Linked DNA regions of Homo sapiens: regions 1 and 2 are each linked to region 3. Evidence: fine-mapped expression QTL. A gene starts in region 3. Each other region holds a variant in brackets. All regions are shown on one strand. Distances are between the middles of the regions. Region 1 overlaps RCBTB1 (RCC1 and BTB domain containing protein 1). Region 2 overlaps SETDB2-PHF11 (SETDB2-PHF11 readthrough). Region 3 holds the start of RCBTB1 (RCC1 and BTB domain containing protein 1).

What was found. PIP is the estimated chance that this variant, and not a neighbour inherited with it, causes the effect.
Region 1: its variant is fine-mapped to the expression of RCBTB1 in whole blood (TOPMed, PIP above 0.99).
Region 2: its variant is fine-mapped to the expression of RCBTB1 in whole blood (INTERVAL, PIP 0.99).

The regions. Positions count from the first base shown.
Region 1 is chr13:49,554,233-49,564,760 of GRCh38, forward strand. It overlaps RCBTB1 (RCC1 and BTB domain containing protein 1), which reads right to left. Exons shown (of 13, transcript NM_018191.4): 5 at 5,686-5,852; 6 at 1,283-1,441. Among named protein-coding and RNA genes, the nearest start is that of RCBTB1, 26 kb to the right of the region's middle. The variant T/C (reference allele first, on the strand shown) is at 2,703.
Region 2 is chr13:49,523,803-49,534,330 of GRCh38, forward strand. It overlaps SETDB2-PHF11 (SETDB2-PHF11 readthrough), which reads left to right. Exons shown (of 21, transcript NR_135324.2): 18 at 283-414; 19 at 1,971-2,135; 20 at 2,585-2,656; 21 at 4,709-5,174. PHF11 (PHD finger protein 11) reads left to right here. Exons shown (of 10, transcript NM_001040443.3): 8 at 283-414; 9 at 2,585-2,656; 10 at 4,709-5,174. The coding sequence ends at 4,863. RCBTB1 (RCC1 and BTB domain containing protein 1) reads right to left here. Exons shown (of 13, transcript NM_018191.4): 13 at 8,144-10,460. The coding sequence ends at 10,320. Among named protein-coding and RNA genes, the nearest start is that of PHF11, 33 kb to the left of the region's middle. The variant C/T (reference allele first, on the strand shown) is at 5,674.
Region 3 is chr13:49,579,151-49,589,678 of GRCh38, forward strand. It overlaps RCBTB1 (RCC1 and BTB domain containing protein 1), which reads right to left and starts at 6,408. Exons shown (of 13, transcript NM_018191.4): 1 at 6,294-6,408; 2 at 1,355-1,434. RefSeq lists a silencer at 5,932-6,641.

The DNA.
Region 1 (10,528 bases), 25 kb before region 3:
ATATGCATGAAACTATTAACAAGATTGGGAAAAGGTATTCACTTTTTATTTTATCTGTTTCACTTGTCTTCCTTTACTTTGTTAAAATAACCATATAATAATAACCTAAAAATTAAACTTATTTTTAAAAATAAGAGAAGAATACTGGAATGGAGGATATTCAACGGCCATCCCAAGGAATTCTGAAGTCATTTCATGATACTGAGATTGATTTTTTAAAAAATAAGTTAACATAAGGTCTATGCATAAACTCTAAAGCACCCTAGCACAGGGGTCCCCAGTCCCCAGCTCATGAGCCGCAGGCCGGTACCAGTCCGTGCCCTGTTAGGAACCGGGCCGCACAGCAGGAGGTGAGCAGCGGGCAAGGGAGTATTACTGCCTGAGCGCCACCTCCTGTCAGATCAATGGCAGCATAAGATTCTCACAGGAGCACGAACCCCATTGTGAACTGCACAACAAGGCATCTAGGCTGTGCGCTCCATATGAGAATCTAACTCATGCTTGATGATCTGAGGTGGAACAGTTTCATCCCAAAACCATGCCCCCAACACCGCCATCTGTGGAAAAACTGTCTTCCATGAAACCAGTCCCTGGTGCCAAAAAGGTTGGGGACCACTGCCCAAGCACACCAATGCATGATGCCAAAACATCTGTGTCCAGGGTAATATCTTTGTATAATTTTCATGCACTAAAATATGCATAGGTAGTAAATAGCCTATTTAAGTGGAAGCTGCATCCAGAGACTAATTTCACAGAAATAACCATCAGCTCAAAAGTGACCACAGTAGGGGGTAACTAAAGGGACAGTTGTTAAAAGTAGCTAACAACAGTCAGGACCCCACAAAAAATCTGCTTTTGCAAGTTGCTTCCTCCTGTGAACATTCAAGATATAGGTAGGTAGTTCTACAAGGACTTCATCAGTTAATTTTAAAATGTACAGTTGACATTGTTTCATTGGAAGAGAAAGGTAGGATTAAATTCTTTAATCTATTACATTAAATATCACGAACAAATAGCTATAGGCATTAGGCTCTTTGGATCTTGCAAAAAATACAACTTAGACATATAGAATCTTTACTTTCAGGTAAATCCTGGAATTTAGAAAAGTCATACTGAGGAGCAAAAAACCTCCAGCTCCTCAGTCAGTAATCAGTTAACTTTCAATGGAGCTACCAAAACAAAGCACTCTTCCTTCTTCCATCTGATACATTCACCTTGTGAAGAAACTGACGTGTAATTGAAAAAGAAGGTAGAAAGGGAAATGGGAGTGGAGACACCTCACCTCGCCATTGTCCAGAACAGCCATGGATGAAGTCTGACCACAGGCAATGCCAACTACCCTCTTAATATGTAAACAGTTTGTAACTTTTCGAGGAGTTGGTTGATTTGCTGTAGAACCTGATCCCACTTGGCCACAGTTGTTATAACCCCAAGCAAACACCTACAAGAGAAAGAAAAAGGAAAAGGAAAGAATAGTCAGGGTGAAAATTCTACCCCAACACAAATAATCATAAAAATTAAAATTATCCTACTTAATGAGTACTTAAGATGTGCTAAACGGTTCTATATGCTTTACACACATTAACCTATTTAACCTGCCTAGTAATCCTGCAAAGTGACCCTAGAGTAGGTAGTACCCACTTTATACATCTCCGTTTTATACATGGAAACTGAAACATGAGAGGTTAAGTGACTTGCTTGAGGTACCAAAGCTGGTAAGTAGCGCTAAGAGAATTTAACCCCAAGCAGTCTAGCTATGCTCTTGACCACCATGCTACATTCCCTCTATAATTTGTGTGTGTGTGTATACACACACAACTACACATACACACATACGAATGTGGCATCAATAGGAAATGCGGTATATGCCACATAAGTATTAGTGATGTAAAACATTTGCTCAACTCTTTGGGCATAAATATTCATTGTTTTCCATGGAAACCATTCTTTTTGTTTTGCTTTGGTTTTTTTTTTTTTTTTTTGAGATAGAGTTTCACTCTGTCCCCCAGGCTGGAGTGCAGTGGTGCGATCTCAGCTCACTGCCAGCCCCGCCTCCCGGGTTCATGTCATTCTCCTACCTCCCAAGTAGCTGGGACGACAGGCGCCCGCCACCATGCCCGGCTAATTTTTTGTATTTTTAGTAGAGATGGGGTTTCACCGTGTTAGCCAGGATGGTCTCGATCTCCTGACCACGTGGTCCACCCATCTCGGCCTCCCAAAGTGCTGGGATTACAGGCGTGAGCCACCATGCCCAGCCTCATGGAAACCATTCTAAACAAGACTATAAACAGAGAGATGAATTAGGGAGGGAGGTGTTGGCAGTAGAGGAAATAATTTCCTCCAACATTAGGAAATGTCTAAGCCCCCGCTCCCCACCCTGCTTCACGTGGCTGCAGGAGGTGGTCCACGTATATACTGAGTGTGGCTTCCATGATTCTTGTCTGATGCTGGCCAAGGCAACAACAGTAGAGCCCTCTGGTATATGTGTTACAGGTTCATTTCACAGGTACAAAACAAATAACCTGCAACACCTCCTCAAAGTATATTCACATAAATATCTAGTTTAATTATGCAAATATTAATATTCAGTATAATTATTCAAAGTACCATATGCTTAAGATTAAAATAAATCAGGAACCCAGCCGGCATAAATTAGCAAGTTTGAGCTAATTTCAGCAATCATTCTTCTGGCACTTCTCAAA[T/C]ACATCACATTCCCTTGCAGTGCTGCTGACTCTTGTTTAAAAACTGGGGCTATAGTTCCACTAACCAAGAAATGGACTAGGAAACAGTGGATCTGGGGCATGAGGCCTGTGTGCTATGCCTGGCTCCAGCACATCCCAGTCATGAAATCTTGGTCTCCCTGAGCTTTTGGGTTTGTTCACTTATAAGTTGTCCTACTTAATAAAATCTCTGTAACATCACTGAGGGACTTCAAAGAGAGGAACAGTATGATCTAATCTGTGTTAGAAACCAGAGAGGACAGCAAAGCAAGACTGGACAGACGGATCAACTTAAAAGATAGGGAATAGAAGGGACTATGGCAGTAGTCTAGGCAGGAAATGACAAGACTTGACCAAAGGCAATGGAAATGGAGAGGAACAAAATGGAGGAACAAAAAGGCAAAGGAAATGGAGAGGAAATGGAGATGGTACAAAAGATTAGAAGACAGAATCAATAGGATGAGTGACCTTTAAGATAAGCACAACTTGGGGGCTTAACAAGTGTTACAGTACCTACTAGGAGGATAGTAAAGTTATTTTTTCCAAACTCATTACATATACTGAAAAATAAAATAGACCTTAAGGATGGGGTCACTAAAAAAAAAAGTACAGAACACTGTCACACATCTGAGCTATAGTCTTAGCAAAGAGCATGGGACTCAGCTGCCTTAAAAAATGAACTCTAGGTTGGGTGCGGTAGCTCACACCTATAATCCCAGCATTTTGGGAGGCTGAGACAGGAGGATCGCTTGAGCCCAGGAGTTCAAGACCAGCCTGGGCAACATAGCCAGATTCTTGTCTCTACAAAAAAAAATTTTTTTTTTAAAAGAATGAATTCTACTGCCATCAAAAGTGTAATCTTGATTATACAATACACGTTATGCTAGAGAGAGAGTGCACTCCCACAAGGTTTTTAGCTACATGCACAGGGCTACAATATTCACACCACATCAAGTACAAATATGGTCATTAAAATCAGAGGATTTTCACAATAGCCAAAAGTGGAAAAAATCCAAACATCCATGAACAGATGAATAGACAAACAAAGTGTGGCTTACAGCAGGTCCTTGAAAAACGTCATTTCATTCAACATCATTTTGTTATAACACTAATGAGAAAAAATGTCAATTCCCGGCCAGGGCCACTGTCTGTGGAGTCTGCATGTCCCATGTCTGTGTGGGTTTTCTCTGGGTACTCTGATTTCCTCCCACACCCCAAAGCTGTGCAGACTAGTTTGTGTCTAAGCTGTATACATGTCTCAATGATTCTAGTGAGAGTGAGTGTGGGGGTATACATGAGTGCACCCTGTATCCTGTCCAGGGCTGCTTCCCACCTGGTGTCCTGCGCTGCCAGAAGAGGCTGTGGCCACATGCAACCCTGAACTGGAACAAACGGGTTGGAAAATGAATGAATGAATAAATGAATACAAATTATTAGAAAATAAAAATTCACAAAGTAGGCTTGTCATGGTGGCTATGCCTGTATTCCCAGCACTTTGGGAGGCCGAGGCGGGAGGATCACCTGAGGTCAGGAGTTCGAGACCAGCCTGGCCAACATGGTGAAACCCCGTCTCTACTAAAAATACAAAAAAATTAGCCAGGCATGGTGGCAGGCGCCTGTAATCCCAGCTACTCAGGAGGCTGAGGCAGGAGAATCACTTGTACCCAGGAGGCAGAGGTTGCAGTGGGCCGAGATTGTACCATTGCACTCCAGCCTGGGCAAGAAGGGTGAAACTCTGTCTCCAAAAAAAAAAAAAAAAAAAAAATTCACAAAGTAGACAATAACCATACAAATGCATAACAATAAACAACACAGTCAAACACCCTCAGTGAGCTGTCACATTTGTGATCGTTTGCTTTTGAACTGTGTGGCAGTAGGAGGTGCCCCTTGTAATTTTTGCTTTGCAAACATTTATTCCTTGACTTAACCCACCACCACTATGATCACCCCAACTCAGTGATTCACCATAAATTGGGTAAATAATTCTCTTATTGCTTTTATTAATCTTTGTTAAATATATGTATTAGTTTGCATTTATTTAAATGTTTAAGAAGTGGTTTGGGTCTTCAGAAGTTTGGTGATGTCTTTGTGACCAGAAATATACCATAGGAACTTAACTCTTGTTTTTATCAATTAGCCAATGGTAAAACTGGTTTCATTACATGTCTTTTTGCTTAAAGTTGTAGTTTCCAAGAATCTATCAATGACATTATGTGGGCACTTACTATATGTATCCAATGGAATATTATTCAGCCCTGAAAAGGAATGAAGAGAATCCTATCATATGGTACAAAGTGGATGAACCTTGAGGATATTATGCTAAGTGAGATAAACCAGTTACAAAAGGACAAACATTGTATGATTCCACTTACGTGAGGTACCTAGAGTAATCAAACTCAAAGAAACAGAGTAGAAAGTTGTTGGCTGGGCACGGTGGCTCACGCCTGTAATCCCAGCACTTTTGGAGGCCAAGGCGGGCAGATCACGAGGTCAGGAGATCGAGACCATCCTGGCTAACACGGTGAAACCCTGTCTCTACTAAAAATACAAAAAATTAGGCGGGTGTGGTGGTGGGTGCCTGTAGTCCCAGCTACTTGGGAGGCTGAGGCAGGAAAATGGCGTAAACCCGGGAGGCGGAGCTTGCAGTGAGCAGAGATCGTGCCACTGTACTCCAGCCTGGGCGACAGAGCGAGACTCCATCTCAAAAAAAAAAAAAAAAAGAAAGTTGTTGTCAGGGGCTGGGGGAGGACAGAATGGGAGTGAATGTTTACCAGGGACAGCGTTTCAGTTTTGCAGGATGAAACAGTTCTGTGGGTGCATGCTGGTGACAGTTGTATGACAAGGTGAACATACTTAACACCACTGAACTATACACTTAAAACTGGTGAAGCTGGTAAATTTTATGTTAAGTGTATTTACTATGATGAAAAAAAAAAAGAATAAAGAATAAAAGCAGCATACTTACCTCTCCATCAGCTGCCAGAGCCATTGAATGATGTGAGCCACAAGCTACTTCCACCACTTGCTTGATCAAGAGATTGGTACAGACCTGGACGGGAGCAATGCCTTGGTTGGTCGTCCCATTCCCAAGCTGGCTATATCCATTGTGGCCCCAGGCATAAACCACTCCATCTGTGCACACAAAGCACACAAAAAATCAGCTCCAAAAAGAAATAGTAACCCTGTACTTTCTTCCCCAGAACTTCGTACAGCTCCTTCTCCAACCTTCATTTCTCTCCCATTGCCCCCTCCTCTCTATTAAGTAACCATGGACAGAGTAAAGGAGAGAGAGATGGGTGACAGAACGGGATAGACAGATGCAAAATCTTTAAAGAAAAAACTTGGTAATAACATAGAAAGATCAGTTTTGTGATCAAAAGCAAAGTTTACGTATGCAAGAATTAGGCTTTCTAAAAGCTTTGATTCATCTCAATAGTTTCTGTGTCAGATGCCAAGAAAAAGGCAGATGATAAGAAAGCTCGATGTTAATGTTTACCATTGCTTAACCAAATACCAAGTCACGGGGAACCCACAGGGGGCGTGTGGCTACTCGCTCACCAAGTATAGGGGAAAGAGATAGACTGTTTACAAAGGAAACAAAAGTCTCAGGGCTTCTTTGAAGCAGACTATTTTATTTTAGTGGCATGAAATCTGGCTGAATTTTTTTTTTTTTTTACATAAAGCAACCATTTTTTTACGCTCATTTATTCTGTGTCAGGAATTTGGACAGGGGACAATGAAGATGGCTTGTCTTTGCTTCACAGTGTGTGTGATCTCAGGAAGATTAAAAGGCTGGAGATGACTTGAGAGTTGAGGACTAGCAACACCTGGAGGCATTGTCACTCACACTGCTGTGACTATCTCTGGAAAGCATAATCAGCTTATTCTAACAGATTCAACTCAGGAACAGCCAAATGGGGGAGACACACAGGGTAAGGTATGCGGGGATGAGGGGTGCACGGAGCTCCCATGCCCTCCCTGGCATGCCACCCCCTCCCAGCACCTCGATGTGGTCACCAACCCGGAAGCTCCTCTGTCTGAATTTTTTTTATAATGACTTTATCTTTTCTGAGATTCTGATGAAGACAACTTTTCTTGTGTTATCTCTTGAAGTATCATCGTTTCAGGCATTTCTTTCCACAGCACCCCCGAGTGCCAAGGGCAGGTCTCCCAGAGTTACACATTCTCCTCTTATCTTTCCCATGGTAATAAAACATCCTGACCTATTAAGGACAGTCTGCCTGGCAACAACACTCAAGGGCAACAGCAGAAATCCAAGTATTACAGTTAGGCTGCTGGTCACTCACAGCAGTCCCCAGGCAACCAGGGGAAACAGACTTCTACTTGTCTACTGTAGAACGAAGACAGCCCACACAAACTCAGAGTCCTCTTCCAGGTGACATGTGGCTCACAAGAGCCATTCCCTCCTACAGAAATTATGACAGAAACCATAAATGGGAAATTTCATCCTGAGAAAGATGAGGCTTAAGACTGAAAGAAAGAGTATAAAACACAAAAAGTATGATCCATGATATTGTGTTAAAAGCTACGGCAGGTGAAAGAAATGTCCAAACTAATGAGTGTTTTAACCCCTGAAAACAGAAAAATAGACTTAAATAGAGAAATGCATACCTTGTTCTTAGATGGGAAAATTCAGTATCATAAAGATTCTAGTTTTTCCTACATAAACTTATAAAGTTTAAATAGCAATAAAAGCTTAAAGTTACTTTCTGGAGGTAGACAAATTGATTAGAAAGTTTAATGGGAAGAATAAACAAACAAGAATAAATAGGAAAACCCTACAAAAAAAAAAGCAAGAAGGTAGCTAATTCTACCAGTTACTAAAACCTATAACAAGTTTCTATGAGGCTGGGCTTGCCTGTAATCCCAGCACTTTGGGAGGCCGAGGCAAGTGGATTGCTTGAGGTCAGGAGTTCAAGACCAGACTGGCCAACACAGTGAAACCCCACATCTACTAAAAAAAAAAAAAAAATACAAAAATCAGCCAGGCATGGTAGCGCGCACCTGTAATCCCAGCTACTCAGGAGGCTGAGGCACAAGAATTGCTTGAACCCAGGAGGCGGAGGTTGCAGTGGGCTGAGATTGTGCCTTGCACTCCAGCCTGGGCAAAAAGGACTCTATCTCAAAGAAAAAAAAAAAAAGGTTAATTTTAAAATAACCTGTAATTCTAAATAATCTCAAATAGAAGACGCTGAATCCATGAAACAATAGCAACAAGTTCTGGAAAGAAACATTTAAAGATCAAGAAAGAACACTTGGAAATAAAACAATGGGAATGTTAAAAATTTGACATAAGCGTTGTAAGATAAAGTTGAAGAAATTTCCCAGAACACAGATGGGAGAGAACATTTTTAAAAAATCATGAAGATCAGGCCAGGCATGGTGGCTCACACCTGTAATCCCAGCACTTTTGGAAGCTGAGGTGGGAGGATTGCTTGAGCCCAGGAGGTTACAGGTGTGAACCACCTGCTCACACAGTGAGGCTGCAGTGAGCCAAGATTGCACCACTGCACTCTAGCCTGGACAGAGAGACCCTGTCTCAAAAAAAAAAAAAAAAAAAAATTTGGAAGATCACTCCAGAATCTCTAACTTTCTAAGAAAAATTCCATAAAGGAGAAAACAAAGAAGAAAATTTTTCTTTTTTTGAGATGGGGTCTCACTCTGACCCTCACTCTGTCACAAAGGCTGGAGTGCAGTGGCGCAATCATAGCTCACTGCAACCTCAAACTCCTGGGCTCAACTGATCCTCCTGCCTCAGCCTCCTGAGTAGCTGAGACTACAGGTGCGTGCCACCATCCCCGGCTTTTTTTTTTTTTTTTTTTTTTTTTTTTTTAAGAGACATGGCCTCGCTATGTTGACCAGGCTGGTCTTGAACTCCCGGCCTGGAGCAAACGTCCTGCCTTGGCTTCCCAAAGTGCTGGGATTACAGGCATGAGCCACCACACACAGCCAACAAGGGAAACTATTCATGAAATATTACAAGAAGAAATTTCCAGAAATGACCAATACAATAAATTAAAAATTACACCAGAGTACAGAATCATGATTATGTCACAATACTTAAAAAAATAAAAATAAAAATAAAAAAAAGATCCTTGAAGCTTCCAAAGAGGAAAAAACAGTCACATACAAAATAGCAAAAGTTGCCAGGCATAGTGGCTCACACCTGTAATCCCAACACTTTGGGAGGCCGAGCCACAAGGATCACTTGAGCCCAGGAGTTTGAGACCAGCCTAGGCAACATGGTGAGACCTCATCTCTACAAAAAAATTTAAAAATGAGGTGGGAAGATCGCTTGAGCCCAGGAGGTCAAGGTTGCAATGAGCCATAATCACTCCACTGTACTCCTGCCTGGGTGACAGAGAGAGAGAGACCCTGCCTCAAAAAAAAAAAAAAAAAAAAAAAAAGGCCAGGCACAGTGGCTTATGCTTATAATCCCAGCACTTTGGGAGGCTGAGATGGGTGGATCACCTGAGGTCGGGAGTTCAAGATCAGCCTGGTCAACATGGAGAAACCCTGTCTCTACTAAAAACACAAAAATTAGCCAGGCATGGTAGCATATGCCTCTAATTGTACTTCGGAGGCTGAGGCATGAGAATTGCTTGAACCCAGGAGGCTGATGTTACAGTGAGCTGAGATCGTGCCACTGCACTCCAGCCTAGGCGATAGAGCGAGACTGTCTCAAAAGAAAAAAAAGGAAAGAAAGAACCAGTGTGATGCCAGAAGGCATGATTACGCAAGGCAAAAGTGAGATAATCACCTCATTATGCTCAACTCCAGTTATATTCATACCACATGATGATGCTCAGATTTGGATTTCACAGCTCTCTTGAGAAAGATGCAGAGAACTTGAAGTAGATTCAGTTAGGAGTTACAGGCACTTAGAAGGCTAGATACTAAAACCTGTGACAGCATTCTAGGAAGCTGTGATTCCTCAGTCTAGACAAAGAAAGGCCGGGATGCAAATCATCTCCCAAATGCCACCCTAGACAATTATCCAACAAAAAGCTGAGGACCTCAGAGAAAGAGAGCAAGAGTTAATGTATCTAAAGTATAAAAGGAAGCATTTAAATAGATAATGAATTTTCAGAGAGTGTTGGGTGCCCACAGTACAGATCGATTACACACACATACAAAATGTCCACTCTCCCTTAGTGATCTTGAAGAGGCAGAGTAAAAAAGGACAAGAACCTATCAACCTGCATCCCCGGTTCTTTCAATATGGCAACTACATGAATGCCAGAGAACAGATGAAGATTTCCCGATTCAAGATGCAAGCAATGCACAAAGAAAGGAAAGCCAGGTAGCATCTATGTTTAGAAAAATGTACCGGCCGGGCACAGTGGCTCATGCCTGTAATCCCAGCACTTTGGGAAGCCAAGGTGGGCGGATCACGAGGTCAGGAGTTCCAGACCAACCTGGCCAATATGATGAAACCCAGTCTCTACTAAAAGTACAAAAATTAGCCGGGGCGTGGTGGCACGCGTCTGTGGTCTCAGCTACTCGGGAGGTTGAGGCAGAAGAATCGCTTGAACCCAGGAGATGGAGGTTGAGTGGGCCGAGATCATGCCACTGCACTCCAGCCTGGAGACAGAGCGAGACTCCTTCTCAAAAAAAAAAAAAAAAAAAAAAAAAATGCCGGGCGCGGTGGCTCACGCCTGTAATCCCAGCACTTTGGGAGGCTGAGGTGGGCGGATCACGAGGTCAGGAGATCGAGACCATCCTGGCTAACACGGTGAAACCCCATCTCTACTAAAAATACAAAAAATTAGCCGGGCATGGTGGCG
Region 2 (10,528 bases), 55 kb before region 3:
GTTACAGTTTTATATGTTTAAAAAAGCCTCTTAATTCATATAGTTATTGTAAGCAGAGAAATTTTCATTTTTACTTTTTGTAACATTTTATTCATTGTTTCAGCTGGCCAAAAAAAATGAGGTATGATGAAATTATAATTAATAAAAAGGGTGAAGGTGCTGTATTATTTTACTAAGTATGTGCATCCACCACTAGGCAAGGTCTGAAGAAATAAGCATAAAGTAATTTATGATTAGCTGCCCTAAGACTATTTCCTTCTCAAATGTTTGTCTTATTCTTAGATGCAACTGTGAAAGTTCCTTTTCTTAAGAAATGCAAGGAAGCAGGACTTCTTAATTACTTACTTGAAGAAATATTAGACAAAGTTCATTCAATTCCAGAAAAACTCATGGATGAGACTACTTCAGAATCAGGTACTGATGAAGAGCAATATTTCGAAGTATAGAGACTTCTCCCAGATCTAGATTTAAAACAAAACAAACCCAAGAAAAAAAAAAAGGCCCATTTTCTTCCTATACTACTTTTTTCTTCTATCAGCTTTTGGAAATGCTTACTATTTATTTCACTTTTTGGTTTTGCCCTATAGAAAATAATCCCATTCAAATAAACATTTTTTATATTGTTGCCTACAATATAAGCTGTCCAGCTTGTCATTCTTTACCTTTACCTCATTCTTTTTTTTTTTTTTAAGACGGAGTTTCGCCCTTGTTGCCCAGGCTAGAGTGCAGTGGTGCGATCTTGCCTCACTGCAGCCTCTGCCTCCCAAGTTCAAGCGATTTTCCTGTCTCAGCCTCCTGAGTAGCTGGGATTTCAGGCACACGCCACTACGCCTGGCTAATTTTCTGTATTTTTAGTAGAGACAAGGTTTCACCATGTTGGCCAGGCTGGTCTTGAACTCCTGACCTCAGGTGATCCGTCCACCTCGGCCTCCCAAAGTGCTTGGATTACAGGCATGAGCCACCATGCCTGGCCCTTTACCTCATTCTTTAATAAAATAATTGGACCAGATCTACTATCCTTCATAAATCAACAGGATGTGGGTAATTTACAAACTCAGTAATTTAGTCAAAAGTAACCTCATGCCCTGAGAGTTGTGGTACATTTTCCAGAGGTGTCTAACAGGTTGGCCACTAAGAGAATGTGCCATTCAGAGATTGATTCGGTCACATATGCTCCCCTGCCACCGCCCTGCATTCCTGTTGCTAAGATCTGAGAACAGTGTTATGTTACAGTTTTGATTTTGGAATCCAATTCTATTCCTTAATAAGCCAAGTGTCCTTTTTTAAATAAGGTTAACTCAAACTTTAAAGTATAGAAGAAGGAATTTTAATGTTTTGACTGATGTTTGGTTTAAAGATGTACTTTGTTAAAGAAGTTTCTTTCTTAAGGGCTCTTTGGGAAGTCAAAGTTCCATTTGTATGTGCAGGTATATAGCTACTTAGCTTTTTGTTTGTTTGTTTTTGAGGCAGAGTCTCGCTCTCTCTCCCAGGCTGAAGTGCAGTGGCATGATCTCAGCTCATTGCAACCTCTGCCTCCAGGGTTTAAGTGATTCTCTTGCCTTAGTCTCCAGAGTAGCTAAGATTACAGACATGTGCCAACACACTCGGCTAATTTTTGTATTTTTAGTAGAGATGGAGTTTCACCATGTTGGCCAGGCTGGTCTTGAACTCCTGATCTCATGTGATCTGCCCGCCTTGGCCTCCCAAAGTGCGGGGATTACAGGTGTGAGTCACTGTGCCCAGCCTTACTTAGCTTTCTTATAACTTATATCCCATGAGTTTAAAACCTTTATTATAAATATAGTTATTTTACAAGGACAAGCTGGACAGCTTATATTGTAGGCAACAATATAAAAAATGTTTATTTGAATGGGATTATTTTCTATAGGGCAAAACCAAAAAGTGAAATAAATAGTAAGCATTTCCAAAAGCTCATTTATTATACTATTTTATTCATTTATTTCCTCTAGACCAAGCACTTCCCAAACAGTGTGCCTGAGAACCACCTGTAGGGCTGGTGAGGACACAGATAGCTGGGCCTATCCCACAGAGATTCTGATTCAGTACAAATACCAAGAATTGGGGGCCAGGCGCGGTGGCTCACGCCTGTAATCCCAGCACTTTGGGAGCCCGAGGTGAGTGGATCATCTGTGGTCAGCAGTTCGAGACCAGCCTGGCCAACATGGCAAAACCCTGTCTCTACTAAAAATACAAAAATTAGCCGGGCGTGGCGGTGCGCGCCTGCAATCCCAACTACTTGGGAGGCTGAGACATGAGAATCGCTTGAACCCAGGAGGCAGAGGTTGCAGTGAGCCAAGATCGCACCACTGCACTCCAGTCTGGGCAACAGGGTGAGATTCTGTCTCAAAAAAAAAAAAAAAAAAAAAAGAAAAAAGAGAAATGCCAAGAATTACATTTCTGACAGCTTCCCTGTAGTGCTGCTGCTGCTGTTGCCATCTAACATTAAAGTTCCATGGCACATGACTGCTCTCTTTCCTTTCCCCTGTTTTGGATTACATATATAAATGGAGGAGTTTCTGCCTATACAAACTGTTTAATATTGAAAATGTTTCTCTCCCTCCAGACTATGAAGAAATCGGGAGTGCACTTTTTGACTGTAGATTGTTCGAAGACACATTTGTAAATTTTCAAGCAGGTATATGAGTTATATAACATCTGAGCAGCATAGTTTTGAGAAATATTTATCACGATATTGAAACAATATACTGTACAGGTGATAAAAATATTTTAGAAGAATGTTCATTGTTTTCTTAAATGAGAAAAGCCAATTACAAAAACAGTATGACCCCGCCCACCTGCCCACACACACAGGAAAAAAATATCGAGGTACATGTGCACAGACAAAAGCTGCACCTGGTGGAGACAGTAGTTGGTTGTAGGTAGTTGGAATATAGTGATTTTTGTCTGTTCTTTTACTGCTATATTTTCCAGATTTTCTATATACACACAAATACTTTTATAATGAGAAAAACTCATTAAAAAAGTAGAGACAACAAAAAATTGATTCAAAAATTGGAGCATATTTTGGCCTGTGTGTGGCCCAGGCAGGAGCTGGTAAAGCTTCCTGCGGCTTCTCTGCTCTTGGGTGGCGAGGCTATGATAAACCATCCCTCCGCTTGCCTCCCTCTCGCTTGGTGAGATAGGTCAAAATTTTAATTCTCCCACTATTAATCCTCAAATCTAATTTAATTTCTTATCAGGGAGGGTTACGACTGATTTAAAGTTCATCAGAAAAAAAAAAAACAAAAACAAACAAACAAAAAATGAGCAAGTAAGAATAGCCAAGAAATGTTTGCAGTAGAAAATCTCGTTTGGTTTGGAGGAGGGAGATTTAACCTTCCTATTAAATATCAACCATTTATTGAGTGAGTCCTCCTTTCAGCATTAAGATGCCCTCAAGACAGGCTACACCTCCACTTGTTTATGAGTCTGGTCTGACTTCTCTATCAAGGCTGCCACACACAGCTGGGCAGGCCGGGCACAGAGTCAAACAGCATTGGTGGATGGCTCCCCCTGAAGTTGCACAACAGAGTGAGTGCCCTCCACACTCTGCATTTCCACAGATGCATCTGTCTCTCCAGCATATGGTAGGAAGACAATAAGATTTCCCTGTGAAGAAATCATTAGTTCATATCCCTGTCTCAACATACACAACCTTTCTCATTTTGGCTTCTATATTATACATTTCTATTTGAATTTTTTACTACATTTATAACCAGCAGGAAAAATACTTTGAAAAATCTACCAAAAAGAGTGTCTGTCTTAATAGTCTTTTGAGGATGTCTGCTAATATATAGCAGTATCCATATTTTTTTAAAGCAGCCTTAAAAATTTTTTTCTAAAAAGAGTTATTTTGTAGGGGACTTCCATGTGTGTTTTTCTTTCATGTAAGGGAACATGTCACACATCACTACTTGGATGGATTAGGTGGGAGTACATATATTATAGTGTAGTATGGCGGGGGTGCCACTACTTAGAACTGCATGAGATTCAACTTAAAAGGCTTAAGTTGGGTTTCACTACCCTGGTTGATAAAAACTTGCTTAATTTAGCCTTACTCATATTTTAAGTTAACTATACGTATGCAGTTATTCTGAATAAAGTTTGTATATGTGTGTAACTGTTCGATTTTGAGGCTTTTAAAAATTACATTGCCATTGACTACTATTTGTTATTTATAAAGCCTAAGTATCTTCCTCCTAAGCTTTTCTAAGTTTCCACAATTAAAAGCCTTCCTATTTCTAAATGAAACCAAAAGCCTTTATGTAACATTAAAAATTGGACACATTTTTAGGAAGGATTTGTCCTTAACCTTGGTATTCTAGCCACATTCTCCAATTATCATCTCTCAATAAATGGATATAGTATAGCATGAAGGTTATACAGTCACTGTTTTCAAGTTCTCAAAGATATACAAAGGGACTTGTTCTGCTATAAATGTGCACAAAATCTTAAGGGTTTACTGAACAGCTTTGTGTATGATAAATGTTAGAATTCTGTCCTGAATTAGAAGGAGGAAGTGAAGGCATAAAGAAACCAGCTCCTGCCCATAAGGCTCTGGATCCTTTTCACCAGAGGCACGAGGATTGTGTATCTGTACCTGCAAGTGAAAGGGGCTAGAAATGGTACATTATTTCTAATAAAACTACTGAATAAGCTGAAATAATTTTATTTCTTCTTTTCATAGCAATAGAGAAAAAAATTCATGCATCTCAACAAAGGTGGCAGCAGTTGAAGGAAGAGATTGAGCTACTTCAGGACTTAAAACAAACCTTGTGCTCTTTTCAAGAAAATAGAGATCTTATGTCAAGTTCTACATCAATATCATCCCTGTCTTATTAGGGATTACCGTTTCCTAAGCCAAGAGTCATGTCAAATTGCAATCAGGCTCAAAACCAGAGACCAGGCTGTGAAATCCACACATCTTTAGAACTAGTCGTCTCCTCTTGGCCTCAGCAGCTCTTCCCTGTTCTTACTGGTTGACATTTTGATCACTCTTTGCACACTCTTGTGTTTTTTGCTCACTGTCACATTCCCAGCACCTAGTATGCTCAGTAAATGTTTGTGGAATAAGTGCATAAAATGTTCTTAACCTTTGATTCTACTTACAGCCCATGATAGCCTCTTAGATATAATAAATTTGGATTATACTACTTTACTTGTACCAAATTTGCCTGTTTTCGTGTCACAAAGTCTGCTTTTGAAAAGTCTCTTTTCAGCCACAGTTATCACGTGGAGATTCATCATCTTCAAAACAGACACCTAAATTTTAAATTGGACTCTGAATAAGAACATTATCGGGAGTATGCAAGAATGAAAAAAAAAATTGACAGTTACATTTTTCTCAATCTAATATACGATTCTGGTTTTTATGCCCACACTATCACGTCTGACCCCTGAAAACTTAACATTCACAGTTCTCATTTTTTACCATGGTACTCTGATTTTCAATAATGCTGCGTCTCAAAATGGGTTTTAACTGAGTCTCCAAGCATGGTGTCTGACATGTAATAAATAAGTACTGGAAAAATATTTGCAGGAGATGAAAAAGAACAGTCCATTCCAGTTGTAATGGCAGCCCTAGCCTAAGTTCTTATATCTTAGGGACAAAATCTAAACCAGTGGATTTCAAATCCGGCCGCACATCAGAAT[C/T]ATGTGGGGCACTTTAAAAACTACAGAAGTGAAGACCCCATCCAACACCCTCTGAACAGATTTCCGCTAGTCTAGATGATTATTGATTACTGTAGCTTCAGCTTCCTATCCTGATATTAAGTCTTAGCAAAGTTTTTGGTTGTTGTTTTGTTTTGTTTAAGACGGAGTCTCACTTTGTTGCCAGGCTGGAGTGCAGTGGTGTGATCTCGGCTCACTGCAACCTCTGCCTCCTAGGTTCAAGCGATTCTCCTGCCTCAGCCTCCCAAGTAGCTGGGACTACAGGCGCGCACCACCATGCCCAGCTAATTTTTGTATTTTTAGTAGAGATGGGGTTTCACCATGTTGGCCAGGATGGTCTCGATCTCTTGACCTCGTGATCTGCCTGCCTCGGCCTCCCAAAGTGCTGGGATTACAGGCGTGAGCCACCACGCCCAGCCATCTTAGCAAAGTTTATCTGACTAATCATTCTGATGTCATGATCTTTATTTAAAAAAAAAAACCTTTGTCCCCCACTTTACTTTCACGTTTAACCTGTGACTCACACAGCATGTAACTGTGCACCATGGAGCACCATGTGTTTGGTGGCCATGAGGCTGGCTACTGGGCAAACCCGAGTATGGGTTCATAAGGCGGAGCCGAGTATGAACTTCAGCTATGTCACTACTGAAAAACTTGAATCCGATTATTTAATCTGAGAATGCTGCTGCCTACCTTATGGGACAAAATATGGACAAGTAAGTAAAATGTGAAGCAGAGAGCACAATGTCTGGCACTATGGGAAATAAATGTTAAAACACACCCATGCACGCACACACTCCCCTTGCTAACATTTCTGTCTTATTTTCTCCATTCTAACCAAACTTAATTATGATAAGCTCTGGAAGGCTCATTAGCCCCCATCTCTTGTGCCTCTTTTTGTTTTGGAGATGAGCTAAAAGGACACTTTATATTTTCCCCTATCCAACACAAGCGTTATCTTCAGAACAACTAACTGCTTGTCATGTTAACCCTATTAACTGTATTAGTCCGTTCTCACACTGGTATGAAGAAATACCAGAGACTGGGTAATTTATAAAGGAAACAGGTTTAATGGACTCAGTTCCGCATGGCTGGGGAGGTCTCAAGAAACTTACAATTGTGGCGGAAAGGGAAGAGGCCCGTCTTACGTAGTGGCAAGTAAGTGAGAGCACGCAAAGCCCAGGGGGAACTGCCATTTATAAAACCATCAGATCTCATAAGAACTCCCTCAATAGCATGAGAACAGCATGGGGAAACCGCCCCCATAATCCAATCACCTCCCAACAGGTCTCCCTCAACAACTGAGGATTACAATTCAAGATAAGTTGGGTGGGGACACAGAGCCAAACCACATCATCCTATTTGGTTTTCTCTCACTGACTGTTATGAAAAGCTCTTTATAAGTATCTCATTGTGTTGTTAATTCCTAAACCTATCTCCCTCTCTCCTAATAATTCATATGTTCTTTGAGGATAGGGAATATGCCTTTCCCTTCAAGTACCCCCAAAGGTACAGACACATTTTTCTACTGTGCCAGTTCAACTGTACTACCCTTCAGCAGGAATAAAATCCAAAGATTTCTATGATGTTTGTTTGTGTATAGTTGAGAATCAAGCAGTTGACATGTTCATGCTGGTACCTATTTTTAGCCTGATACCCATTAAGAATCACACCACTGATTTTTTTTATTATGGTAAAATATATATATAACCTAAAATTTGCCATCCCAATCATTTTTAAATGTATGGTTCAATGGCATTAAACATTCATTTTTGTGCAACCATCACCACCATGCACCTAAAGCAGCAGTCCCCAACCTTTTTGGCACCAGGGACTGGTTTCGTGGAAGACAATTTTTCCACGGACCATGGGGATGGGGCGGTTGGTCAGGGGTGGGGAGGATGGTTTTGGGATGAAATTGGTCCACCTCAGATCACCAGTCATTAGATTCTCATATGGAGCACACAACCTAGATCCCTTGCATACTCAGTTCACTGTAGGGTTTGCACTCCTATGAGAATCTAATGTTCTAATGTTGCCACTGATCTGACAGGAGGCAGAACTCAGGCAGTAATGCTCACTCATCCGCCACTCACCTCCCGCTGTGCGACCTCTTCCTAACACGCCAGGGATGAATATGGGTCTGTGGCCCGAGGGTTGGGGACCCCTGACCTAAAGGACTCTTCATCTTGGAAAACTGAAACTCTGTATCCATTAAACAAGTTCCCCATTCTCCTCTCCCCTCAGACCCTGGCAATGACCATTCTACTATGTCTCAATGAATTTGACTAAGTATATCACACAAATGGCATCACATAGTATTTTTCTGTGAGTGGCTTATTTCACCCAGCATAATATCCTCAAGTTCACCTCTGTGCACCATGTGTCAGAATTTCTTTCCTTTTTAAGGCTGCAGACTACTGATTTTGAAGGAAAAAAACAACTCTATGTGCCTGTTTTAATGTTACTTTGTTTATTAACATGTCGTTCTAAATATTACATAAATACAGCTTACATACTAGAGTATCAAACATTGTTCCAGTAAGAAGTTCAAGAGTACATTTAGGGCTATCTTAAGAAATATGAATACTTTGGCTTCCATTATTACATTAGATGAAAAAATCAATTCAAATAAGAGTTGTCATATCCTGCTATGATTAACAAAAAAACAAGTAGAAAAATAAGAGAGTGTATTTAAAAAAAATAATCAAATGCTTTTTGAAAGACCTGTTCTCTTCACTGCCACACATATTCATACAAATGACTTAGTAATCTAATATGAGAAGTGGTCCTTCACTTATATTAGGAACTTGGTAAATATTTGTTGAATGAATGAACTATCTATGGATATGAATTTACTACTTTAATTTGTGCTTTTTTTGAAAAAAAGTTTTCAAGTAAGAGCAATAGTAAACATACTGAAGTTCACATTTTGCTCAGATCATAAGCCTATAGAACAGTGATTGTTACAAACACCACCCATCATAGCACAAATCAATGTGCATTTCTGAAGCTAGTAAGAAAAGTTCTATCATGTTGTAGAACGAATTCTAACCGACTAATTCACTGGGCTTCAATCACTTGTGATATGGTCAAGAAAAGGGGGCTGGGGCTCCTAGGCTTGTATCTATTTCAGCTATCAGTGAATTCCTATCTTTAGGGCCTCACTCCCCTTCCCACCCCAATAGACACAAATTTAAAAACATTGCTAAAAATAGTAGTTGTAGCATGTCTTCACCCACTTGTAATTTGGCTCTGAAAATGTATTCAGGCTCCAGGTTCAGAAGAGAGACTTTCCAAGCAGGAGACAAAATTCACTAAGGGAACTCACTCAAATGGAAATGAGTTCATGGACCAGAGAGCAAAGCAAAACATTGCTCTTAAAAGCAAGCTCAACGGACACACATGATGAAACTCACAGTTGAACACTCTTACATCCCAAAGTCACCTTCCATAACCAGTTCAAATAAACTACTGTCTTTTAATAGGATCTTTTCAGGAACACCATAATTTTGGTGCTTTTTCAAGGTGAAATTGTGCTGTTATACCTAAGATGTTTAAAAACAGAGGAAAACCAAAAGTGAAAGATGATAAAGTTTCACATAAGCCAATGTGTGATGGATTTGGCCTAAAGTAGATAAAGCAAATTCCACTAAGTCTTGTAAGAGGGTTGACTTGAAGAACCACTTCTTCCAGTCATATATAGTAGATATGATGATTCAGCAGTCATAATTTAGGAAGGCAAGAGTATACTATACATGTCATTATTTTCCTCTTAAGTTTGCATTTATAGAAGAAGGTGGTGGGGGACAATTTAAACTTGAGTTCTCAAGTTCTACCTTAATGAAATAAAACACCATTGGATAAGTAGTGGAGATTCTAATTTATAAAATATTCACCTTCATCAAATTTCTTTCATTATCAACTTTTCACGGATACTTCTAAATTACTATTCTTTATGCACTTAAATCTTAAGAGAAATCTTGACTAACCTAGAATATTTATCTTTACATAATTATCATTTCAACAGGTTTAATATACGTTAAACTTATTACTTTGATTTATCTTGAAGTTAAAAAAGTCATCAACGCAAGCACACAAACAAAAGTCTGAAACAATCTTAATTATTCCTTCACAGTAAGGCTACTAAACTAGCAACTAAGGCAGCACTTAACAATCCCCAGGTCAGCATCTTTAATTCACGATGGGGCCTCTCCATTCATCTCACAATTCCCCAACTATCACTGCTCCTGCTGTCAGAAGATTGTTGATACGTGGCCCAGGAGAGTTGCTGCCAACTTCCCCTTTCCAAGTTCAGAAGTTCCTCTAATCAAAAATGAAAAGAAGACCAAAAACGACTAACTTTCACCCTTTTACATGTTCCAGCCCAAATTTACGAAAGGTCACATTTAAAATACACTTATCTGGAAACAAGGGTTGTTTAAAATGGGCTCAAGAAAAGCCGTACACCCTTGTTATGTTCCTACACAAACAACTGTGTCCCAGATGTGGAAAAAAACAACCTGATGGTCTTTTACCTGCAGAATCACATCACCCGTAGAGCACAAACTGGACACATCCTCAACAGTGCCCCAGAGCACTCACACAGAACCCAGCAGCCTTGCGCTTCAGTTCTTAAAGGCTCCACATTTACTGGCTTTAGCAATGAATTCCTTTAGCAGAGGGCCATCCATTTGCCAAAATGCTGCAGTCTGTGTAACTTCTGTCAAATGATTGATGCAAAACTTAAAGCAGAATTCTTCTAAATCCTGGACACACAACAAAAATAAAAACAAAAATGGCTTTTTTAGGCAACTTTGATTGAATTACTTCTCTC
Region 3 (10,528 bases):
AGCCTCAAACATTTTTAAATAAAAATAAAACTTAAAACCATTTCACCCACTCTATGGTATAAGGGCTGCAAATCACAGGCAAAGTTTCGAAGATGTGCTGAGACACTAATATGTTATTGCCCCAGCTGCTAGAACAGCTGTCATCCACGTCTCTCTTCTGCAAACACACAGTACTACAAGAATGAAAGGGAGGCCGGGCGTGGTGGCTCACACCTGTAATCCCAGCACTTTGGGAGGCCGAGGCAGGCGGATCACGAGGTCAGGAGATCAAGACCATCCTGGCTAACACAGCGAAACCCCGTCTCTACTAAAAATACAAAAAAATTAGCCGGGCCTGGTAGTGGGCGCCTGTAGTCCCAGCTACTCTGGAGGCTGAGGCAGGAGAATGGCGTGAGCCCAGGAGGCACAGCTTGCAGTGAACCGAGATGGTGCCACTGCACTCCAGTTTGGGTGACAGATCGAGACTTGTCTCAGAAAAAAAAAAAAAAAGAATGAAAGGGAAAGGAAGAATGCCCTGAATGCTTGACTAAGGAGTCTGAGAATGTAGCCTTCTCCCAAAGTAGTTTGTCATCCTTCAAGCTGAAGCCACCTGTACAGGTGAGTGAAGATAATACCCCCACCTTCATTTAGAGAACAGTATGACTAGTGTTTTAGAATTCTCTGATTGTGCCTACCCTTTGTTTCATAAGTTTTGTTCAAATTCATCACTAATTTTAGAGGAAAATGTAAGTTCCTACAACTGTCATTTCCCAACCACTAATAAGTTATTTGACTTGAAGCACAATTTGCAATAATGGCCTCTGTAAGCATTTCTTTAGCCCCATCATCCAAGGGGCTGCTTTCATCTCATTCATTTCATCTCGTCTCACTTCTAACCTCAGCCATGTGCTCGAAAAGCAAACGAACCAAGTGGCAATAGCATTAGCAGTGAAAAAAATAACATATCTAGGGTTGTGCAGCTGACTGAGATCTTATAAAAGTATTGCTTTTATAGGATACTGTTGTTTTCAAAAGGAAACCAGAAAAGAAATATCGATGATTAGAAATAATGTTTTTTCTGTAAGTTTGTTCTTTGTTAAACCAAACAAACAGGTGTCACAAAACAGAACAAAAAAACCAATGATGGGTCAAAGTTTAAAGAAATGGATAGATGGCTGGGTGAAGTGGCTCACACCTGTAATCCCAGCATTTTAGGAGGCGAAGGCAGGAGGATCACTTGAACCCAGGAGTTCAAGACCAGCCTGGGCAACATGGCGAGACTCCATTTCCTTAAAAATAAAAAGATTAGCCAGTCATAATGGTGTGCGCCTGTAGTTAGTCCCAGCTACTCAAGAGGCTGAGGTGGGAGGATCACCTGAGTCCAGGAGGTTGAGGCTGCAGTGAGCCGTGTTCACACCACTGTATTCCAGTCTGGGCAAGAGAGCAAGATCCTGTCTGAAAAAGAAAAAAGAAATGGATAAAACATAATACTTCATTTTATTTTCCAAATGAATTCAAGGCTGGAATTGGTGGGTCAAATTCAAATCTAAATATGGTTTCATGAATCTTTCTCATGTGGATACCCCAAAAGTGATTTCATCTATTAGTCCCCAGTTGTATGAAAAGTATCAACTGTACCCTGCAATGACCTAAAGCCAAACTGAAATTCCAGCAATGGACTGGCAGAACCATACACTATTAATTCAATAAATTTTCTTAGGTAAACAGGACACAGAGCCAACACCAACAGAAATTACATGGGGTTGGGGGATCTAGACACATAAACAGATGCTCACAACAGTGTGGCTGGTCAGATGCTGTGGAGGCAACAGAATTGGGAAGTATGCTTCAGCTACCTAAAGAGAAGCAGGCGCCTGCAACAGTGAGCACTCATGCCAGGTAAGGCTCTGGTGGAGGAACTGAAAGAAAGTCAGCATGGCTGCAGCCAAACAACTCAGGCTTTATCCTAAGAGCACCAGGTAATCCCTGAAGGGTCTTAAGCAGGGAAGTGGCATAAACAGATGTAGGTCTATGAAAGATTACTTTGGCTGACCACAGAGACATGAGACGACAAAGGAGTGCTTAGAGGAAGTCCAGATGGCTATGGTAAGCCAGAAAAGAAGGGATTGAAGCCCACACTAGGGAAATGGAGAAAATTGAACAAGAAGGAAAATCAAGAAGATTCTGCAACTGGCTGAATGGGACAAGGAGCACTGGATAAGCAGAAAGGCAGAGCCGAAGATCACAGGCAGACGCTGAGCTTGAGTGAGAGAGAACTGTGCTGCCACTCACTACAGCAGAAAGCACAGCAGGCCTCAGGGGTGATGAGTCCTACTATGGACATTTGTGCCAGGTACCTGTGGGATATTAAAGTGGACAAGTCCCAACAGATGGATTTAGAAATCTGAAGCTCAAGAAAGGTCTGGATTGGAGATTTGGAAATCTGGCATGAAATCACCCAGGAAAAAAGCAAGTGAAATAAGGAGAGCAGAGTACCTTAAGAAGAACTCTAAGAAACTCCAACGGGAAAGGGACAGGGAGTACCCCCTAGAAGGGACTGTGAAGGAAGAGGTAGACCAGGAGGAAAACCAGGAGACAGAGTGTCACAGAGATCTGGGGACTTGAGCATCACAGGCAAGAGGCATGCTAGTGTCGAATGCTGCTGAGACACCAAACGAGGGAAGGGTGGAGAAACTTCCATTGGATTTAACAAGGAGAATTATCAGTGACCTTAACAAGAACAGTTTCACTGAGGTTGTGGGTGGAAGAGGCCAGGTTGCAGCAGGTTGAGGCGTATGTGAAAGGTGAAGAAAAGGAAACCATGAGTATAAACAACTTGTTCAAGAAATTTCACTCTGAAGGAAAAATGAGAAATCGCATAGTAATCACAGAATGTGATAGAGTTGCAGGACGTTTTCTGTTAACCTTTTTAATGTAAACATTGTTAGAGGCTTGAACATGTTTGAATTAATGGGAAGGAGCCAGTAGAAACATCAAAGAGGAGAGGATGTAACAACTCAATGGGCCTTAAGAAAGTAGCAGGGAATGGGATCTGAAGCAGAAGTGCAACAGAAGCGCCGGGCGCAGTGGCTCATGCCTGTAATCCCAGCACTTTGGGAGGCCGAGGCAGGTGGATCATCTGATGTCAGGAGTTCGAGACCGGCCTGGCCAACATGGTGAAACCCCATCTCTATTAAAAATACAAAAATTAGCTGGGCATAGTGGTGGGTGCCTGTAATCGCAGCTACTCAGGACCCTGAGGCAGGAGAATCGCTTGAACTCGGGAGACGGAGGTTGCAGTGAGCCAAGATCACACCACTGCACTCCAGCCTGGGCAACAAAAGCAAAATTCTGTCTCTAAATAAATAAATAAATAAATAAATGCAAGAGAAACTGTAGAAAGGAGCAAGTCTTCCTTTTCTTCCTTCCACAAGAGGAGGAGGAAAGGGTGAATGTGAATGAAAGCCAGTTTAAAGGTTAGGAATCCAGATGCTGGAGACATACTCATTCTCTCATTCTCATTCTCTCTCCCCGCTGAGTCTCCATTTTACATGCCCACCGGCAATGTACAACAGTGCTGCTTTCTCCAGTATTTACTGTCTTTTGTATTATACCCATCCTAGTGGATGGGAGGTGGTATCTCATGGTTTTGATTGGCATTTGGAGACCATTCTCTTCTGAGGTCACCTATTTTTCCCCTATGAAGAAAGAGTTAGGCTTTTTGCTAAGAGTAAGAGGGGAGGTAGCAATAAACAGTGGAGTGGAGGCCGGGTGTGGTTGCTCACGCCTGTAATCCCAACATTTTGGGAGGCCAAGGCGGGAGGACTGCTTGAGGCTAGGTGTTCAAGACCAGCCTGGGCAACATAGGGAGACCCTGTCTCTACAAAAAATAAAAAAATTAGTCGAATGTGGTGGTGCGCACCTGTGGTCCCAGCTACTTGGGAGTGGGGAGGATCACTTGAGCCTGGGAGTTTGAGGCTGCAGTGAGCTATGATCACATGGCACACTGTACTCCAGACTGGGCGACATAGTGAGACCCTGTCTCAAAAAGAAAAAAGTGGAGTGGAGCAATTGGGGGTAAAATGGTGAAGTCTGAAGCAGTCACCAGGGAGGATGGGAAAGAGCACTGAGCAGAGAAACCTAGCAGGATGGTAAGACCAAGCCCAGAGAAAGCTGGAGACCGTAAGTCTTTAGAGGTACCCATCTGGTCTCCTCTGTGAGCTTTTCTACCCCAGGAAAGAAGTGTGCTTTTGTGTATGTGTGTGTGTGTGTGTGTGTGTGTGTTTTAAATGTGATCTAACACACAGTTGACTTATATAATTATTTCATTAACTGATCTCCTCTACTAAGTCTATTCTGGCTAAATTCAGACAACACTCATCATACCCCTCTTGTGCATTCTTCAGCACGTACACAACATGTACTTTTTTTTTTTGAGATGGAGTCTCACTGTGTCGCCCAGGCTGGAGTGCAGTGGCACAATCTCGGCTCACTGCAACCTCTGCCTCCCCAGGTCAGGTAATTCTCGTACCTCAGCCTCCTGAGTAGCTGGGACTACAGGCGCACACCACCACGCCCAGCTAATTTTTTGTATTTTTAGTAGAGACGGGGTTTCACCATGTTGGCCAAGCTGGTCTTGAACTCCTGGCCTCGTGTAATCTGTCGCCTCAATCTCCCAAAATGCTGGGATTACAGATGTAAGCCACTGCGCCTGGCCAATATGTAACATTTTTAACTTTTTGTAAAACCAGAGAATATTTTGAAATGTGTCCGAATGCCCTGCCTAGATTCTAGACTCTGTGAGGCCCCAGCCTCCTTTCCTATGCATGACTTACTGTTTAATGTAGTACACACAGAAGGGATATCATCATCATAATAAAGGTCCTCACTTTCCTTCACAGTTTCATCTACCCCACAATGACTCCCAGGAAAAGGAGGGTACTGTTTCAGACTTCCCAGCTCCCGTATATTAGGTGGAGCCAAGTTCTTGCTGCAGCATACGGGCACGCTTTAAAATTTTCAAATCATTTTTTAAAAGCTACAAGCTTGACAGCTTTGGGTTTTTATGGCTACTTGTTTTCTGAAGTTCACAGAACTTTATCATTTGGATCACACACTTAAAAAAATCACTTGCAAAAATCTCTTTAAAGATGAATATGCTTCCTCTTCAAGAGAAACAGACTAGCGGGTAGAAGAAAAAGGACCCGTCTAGAGTATTAATAAATAGACTGATATTCACACAATGGATTAAATGGATTAAAGTCCATCCCACAGATGAACTGTTATATTAATAGAATCCAAATATACAGTTACATCCTCGACCCTGAAAGCAGTTTAAACGGGTGAAATTCACCCAGTGCTCACTTGAAATGAGTACTCTAAAGTTTAAAGCACCTATAAACTGCCCTCAGGATTCAATCATTTTTCCATTCCTTCCGGCATTATATACTTTGATGTTTTAATGTTATTAGCCCACAATACACACCAGTTTCAGAAACTCAGTTTTTGTCCTCTAAGGGCTTTTAGTCCTCCCAAAAAAAGAATAGGGCAAAAGCAAGGAAGATCATGAATCTGGTTTTCTAAAAGCATTATTACAAGACTGCTTTATAAAATTGTAATCCCCAGCTGCAGAGTTCCGCAGATGGCTTGAAAGTGTCTTACATGCAAATAAATAAAAACAAAAGGCCACTTATGCGAGCAGAACACAGCGTGCTCGATAGTCATCTTAAACCGAGCAGGTAGGTACTTTATCAGAGGCAGACAAGGGAAACGTCACTTATTTAGAGTTCACCGCACGCCTGGATAAAAGTCCTCACTAACAAAATCCCTGCCTTTGTGGATTCTGTGTCGGAAAGGGAAACGATAAAGAATACGGTTTGTGACAGCACTACTCTCAGGAGACGAAGGAGAGATGCTAAGATCTTGGAAAGGAGAGAGAATAGGAAGAGTCGGAGGGGAGATCTCCTCTCAGTAAAACGGCACCCACAGCAGTCAGACTTCAGCTACGAGCAAAATCGAGTCCGTGCACCTCAAAAAAGAGAGGGAGGCAGGGAAAACTTTCCCTCGCCTCTCCCCATCCTTCCCTCCTCCTCGCAGGAGAGCACATTAGCTGAGGTGCTGGCGGGGCCGGGCCGGGGACCCCATCCCTCGCCCCGGACGCAGCGCCCGCAGGGACTGCCCGGGAGCCCGAGCGAGGGAGGCGGGAGGTACAGGAGTAACGGGGCACTCCCGGCCCGGCCTGCGGGGAAGGGAAGCAGGGGCAGGGCCGAGGGGGAAGAGGCCTCCGCGAGCTCGACCCCGCGCCCACACGCTACCTGCGAGGTCAGCTGCTGCCGCGCCGTCCCGCGGGACCGCAGGGATCTCCGAAGCTCCAATGGGCGCAGAAGTGCGAGCGAGCGGCGGTGCCCACCGGCAGCGAAGAGGAGGAGCGCCAGGGCGCCGGGCCCGCCGGGTCACGTGGCCCCGGCCGCCTCACGTGACCCGGTGCAGCGCGCGCCCGGGACGCTACCCAGCCGAGCATCCCGCACCGCCCCGGCCCCGGCCCCGGCCGAAACCCTGCTCTTCGGGCCCTACAACCCGACTTCTTTAGAAGCCGATTGGCCGTCTCAGGCCCGCCCCGAGGCCCTGCCACTGGAGTGTCCCCATGAAATCCGGTGGCTGCTGCCGGGACTTAGAGGCTTTTGTGTCTGAGGAACCAGGAACGCGCGAGGCACGGGCTCCTGCTCTGCTCCCCGAGATGGCTTGGCTGTGGGGAGGGTCGGCCTACCACCCCAGAGACCTAGGACGGAAAAGCGACCGAGAAACTTGGCTCCCTGCCCACTCTAGAGCGCGTCTGGCCCCGGGGCACCACCCAGGTGGTGCTGCCTGGGAGGAAAGGCGGCGGAGCTGGGACTAGTTTGTTTTTACTGGAGACGCGCCTCCCTCCCTCCCCGCCCCTCACTTCCTGATTGAAAGTACCTGAGGCAGGCCAGGGACTAGGGAAGGTGGCAGCTGGACAAAGGTATGAAGGAAGGACGAGATGAGGCACAGGTCCTGGTATTGGAAAGAGGCAGAGGTACCTCGGAAGCATGCCATAGAGGTTAGACGGGACCTAAGAGGGCATCTGGTCCAACCGGATTCGTGTTACCAGCGAGTAAACTGAGGCCAGGAGAGGGACTGCTACGAGCTGCTCCAGCCTATCACCTATAAAGACTACAGTCCCTTTGTAAAATACCATACAGCTCTCGGAGAACTCCCAGTTGGCGCTGCAGGATAAAATCCAAACTTGTTGGCATAGCATTCCAGCCACTTGTTCACTTACCTTTCCCATTTGAGCTCCTAGGAATAAACAGAAAAACATTTCATTTTCTAAATATCACCAGATAACTTCACTTTTGGTAACTTGAATTATTAAAAAAGTCCTACCGTCCCTCATCTCTTGCCACTTCCCCAACATTACTGGAGGCTCTGGCTACAAATAATTTGTTTTCCTTGACTACTCAACTTTCTTTGGATTATTTACTTTTTCTCTAAGTTTCTTTACTCCTTTTTGCTTTGTTCATTCTTTTGTCTGTATCTGAAATGTCCTGAATCACCACCTCCCCCACTTAAAGAAAACCAGGGCCAATGATTAAAAAAAAAAAAAAAGGTATTAAGAAACTAATGCAATAAGAGAATTGAGCTTAGTTCTGTATCTATTCTGAGGTCTCGCTCCTGTTGCACTAGTTCCTGAATAAAATGTTTTTACCACTTCAACTACTGTTTGGCTCTGGTTTTCTTCAACAGCCTCCAAAGTACACATCAGTTTCCTACTCATCTTTCAAAATCCAGGTCAAATGCCGCCTACTCTTGTCTTCCCAGCATCCTCTTCCCTGATTTTTTAGCAATTGAAGTTCATCCAGACAGTGTCAGCTGCAACTTCTTCCCTGATTTCCAGAATACTATATATATTCTGATACACCTCACACTGCCCAGAAATAGACTGCGCATTTCCTGTAAAAGGTGAATTGTCTATTGCTGTCTTCTCCCTTAGATTATAAACTCTTTGAAACAGGATTCTTCTGGGTTTAGAACAGCGCCTGGCATGTGATAGACCCTTAATACTCACTGAATGAAGTGGCTTGCCCAAAGTAGTGGCAGTTGAGTGAATTTACTAGAAGAGGCCTGTTTTGCTCAAAGAAACTAAAATCAGTTTCTTTTGGTTGCAACCCGATCAAAAGAACTTGTGTAAACATGTCTGAGAGAAAAACGAGGGCATGGGGTGTGAGCAATCAAATATGTCCTGAGCCCTCACTGCTTATGTGTCAGATGCCATACTTGGAGCATCTTGGAGGATTAAAAGCTGAATGAGACATGGTTGCTGATAAGGAATGTGTAGTCTGGTTCATTATTCCAGTACAGGGTGAAAAGTATTATGATACAAGGTGCTAAGTGAACACAAACCAGGGACCACAAATCAGGGAGTCAGGGAGAAACTTCATGAGAAGGTCAGTTGGACAGGAAGTAGATAAGAAGAAAGAAAAAGACATTCCAGGAGAGAGCAATGTGTTCAAAAGTAGTGACACATGAAACAGTACTATTTGTTTAGGAAAAAACAAACAGGTAGGTGCAGTGGCTCATGCCTGTAATCCCAGGCCAAGGCAGGCAAATCACTTGAGGTCAAGAGTTCAAGACCAGCCTGGCCAACTTTGGAAAACCCTGTCTCTACTAGAAATACAAAAATTAGCCAGCTGTGGTGGCACGTGCCTGTAATCCCAGCTACTTGAGAGGCTGAGGCACAAAAATCACTTGAACCCAGGAGGCAGAGGTTGTAGTGAGCCAAGATCGCATCACTGCATTCCAGCCTGGGTGACAGAGTGAGACTCTGTCTCAAAAAAACAAAAACAAGTAACCCTATATTGATGCCTTGATGACTTCATTCACATCTAGGATAAAGGAAACCAAATTAGGTTAATTTTAATATACTTGAAAGAATGACATATTTACTGGTATTGGTGTTATTTATTGTATTGAATAACTTTCTATCAGGCACATCATAGGCTCTGCATCTAAAATTGGCCTAGGCCAGGCACAGTGGGTCACGCCTATAATCCCAATGCTTTGGGAGGCCAAGGTAGGTGGATTGCTTGAGCCCAGGAGTTCAAGACCAGCCTGGACAACATAGCAAGACGCTGTCCCTATAAATAAATAAGAATAAAACTGGCTTGGACTAACGCGAGGTGATTTTTTACCTTTTTTTCCAGCCTCAAAAGCTTTCTATGATTATTATGTAAAAATACCAAAATTACTTGTTCCAAAGAAGATGATTTTTTTTATTTTTTGAGACAGCGTCTTGCTCTGTTGCTCAAGCTGTACTGCAGTGGCATGATCATAACTCACTGCAGCTTCAACCTCCATGGGCTCAAGTGATCTTCCCACCTCAGCACCTCAGCCTCCTGAGTAGCTAGGACCACAGGTGAGGGCCATCAGGCTGGGCTAATTTATATTTTCTGTGGAGACGGGGTTTGCCATGTTGGCCAGCCTGGTCTCGAACTCCTGAGCTCAAGCAGTTTGCCTACCTCAGTCTCTCAAAGTGCCAAGATTACAGGTGTGAGCCACCATGCCTGGCCCCAAAGAAGATTATTTTAGAGCACTCCAAACCTTTCCTTTAGAGCAAAATAATTCAATTAACAGGTAGTACTTTAAGACAGAAACTGGGCTTAACCTCCAGCATGTGAAAAGGGAGAACCACTCCACTTAATGCTAACACATGATTACGTTGGGAAAAGTACCTGTCAAGAACCTAATAAAATATCATAAGGTTTGTCCGGACATGGTGGCTCACGCCTGTAATCCCAGCACTTTGGGAGGCCAAGGCAGGTAGATCACTTGAGGTCAGGAGTTTGAAACCAGCCTGGCCAACCTGGTGAAACCCTGTCTCTACTAAAAATACAAAAGTTAGCTGGGTGTGGTGGTGGGCACCTGTAATCCCAGCTACTCAGGAGGCTGAGGTGGGAGAATCACTTGAACCCTGGAAGCAGAGATTGCAGTGAGTCGAGATCATGCCACTGCACTCCAGCCTGGGCAACAGAGTAAGAGTCCATCTCAAAAATAAAATAAAAATAAAAAATGAATAAAATTGCTTCTTTGTCCTTTGGCAGGCAAAATAGCTTTTTTATTTTTTTATTTTTATTTTTTGACACAGGGTCTCGCCCTGTCACCCAGGCTGGAGTGCAGTGTCATGATCTCAGCTCACTGCAGTCTCCACGTCCTGGACTTAAGCGACCTTCCCACCTCAGCCGCCCGAGTAGCTAGGACTACAGATGCATACCACCACACCTGGCTACTTCTGTTTATTGTTTGTAGACACAGGATCTCACTATTTTGTCCAGGCTGGTCTTGAACTCCTGAACCCAACGGATCCTCCCACCTCAGCATCCCAAAGTGCTGGGATTACAGGTGTGAGCCACTGTACCCAGCCCAAGAGAGCTTCTTAATTATGGAATTTCTTCACTGTCCATGTCAGTTGATGGTGAAATGTTTATTTTTTATTCATTAGCAGTGGTCCTTGTTCCACCTGCATTTAGCTGTG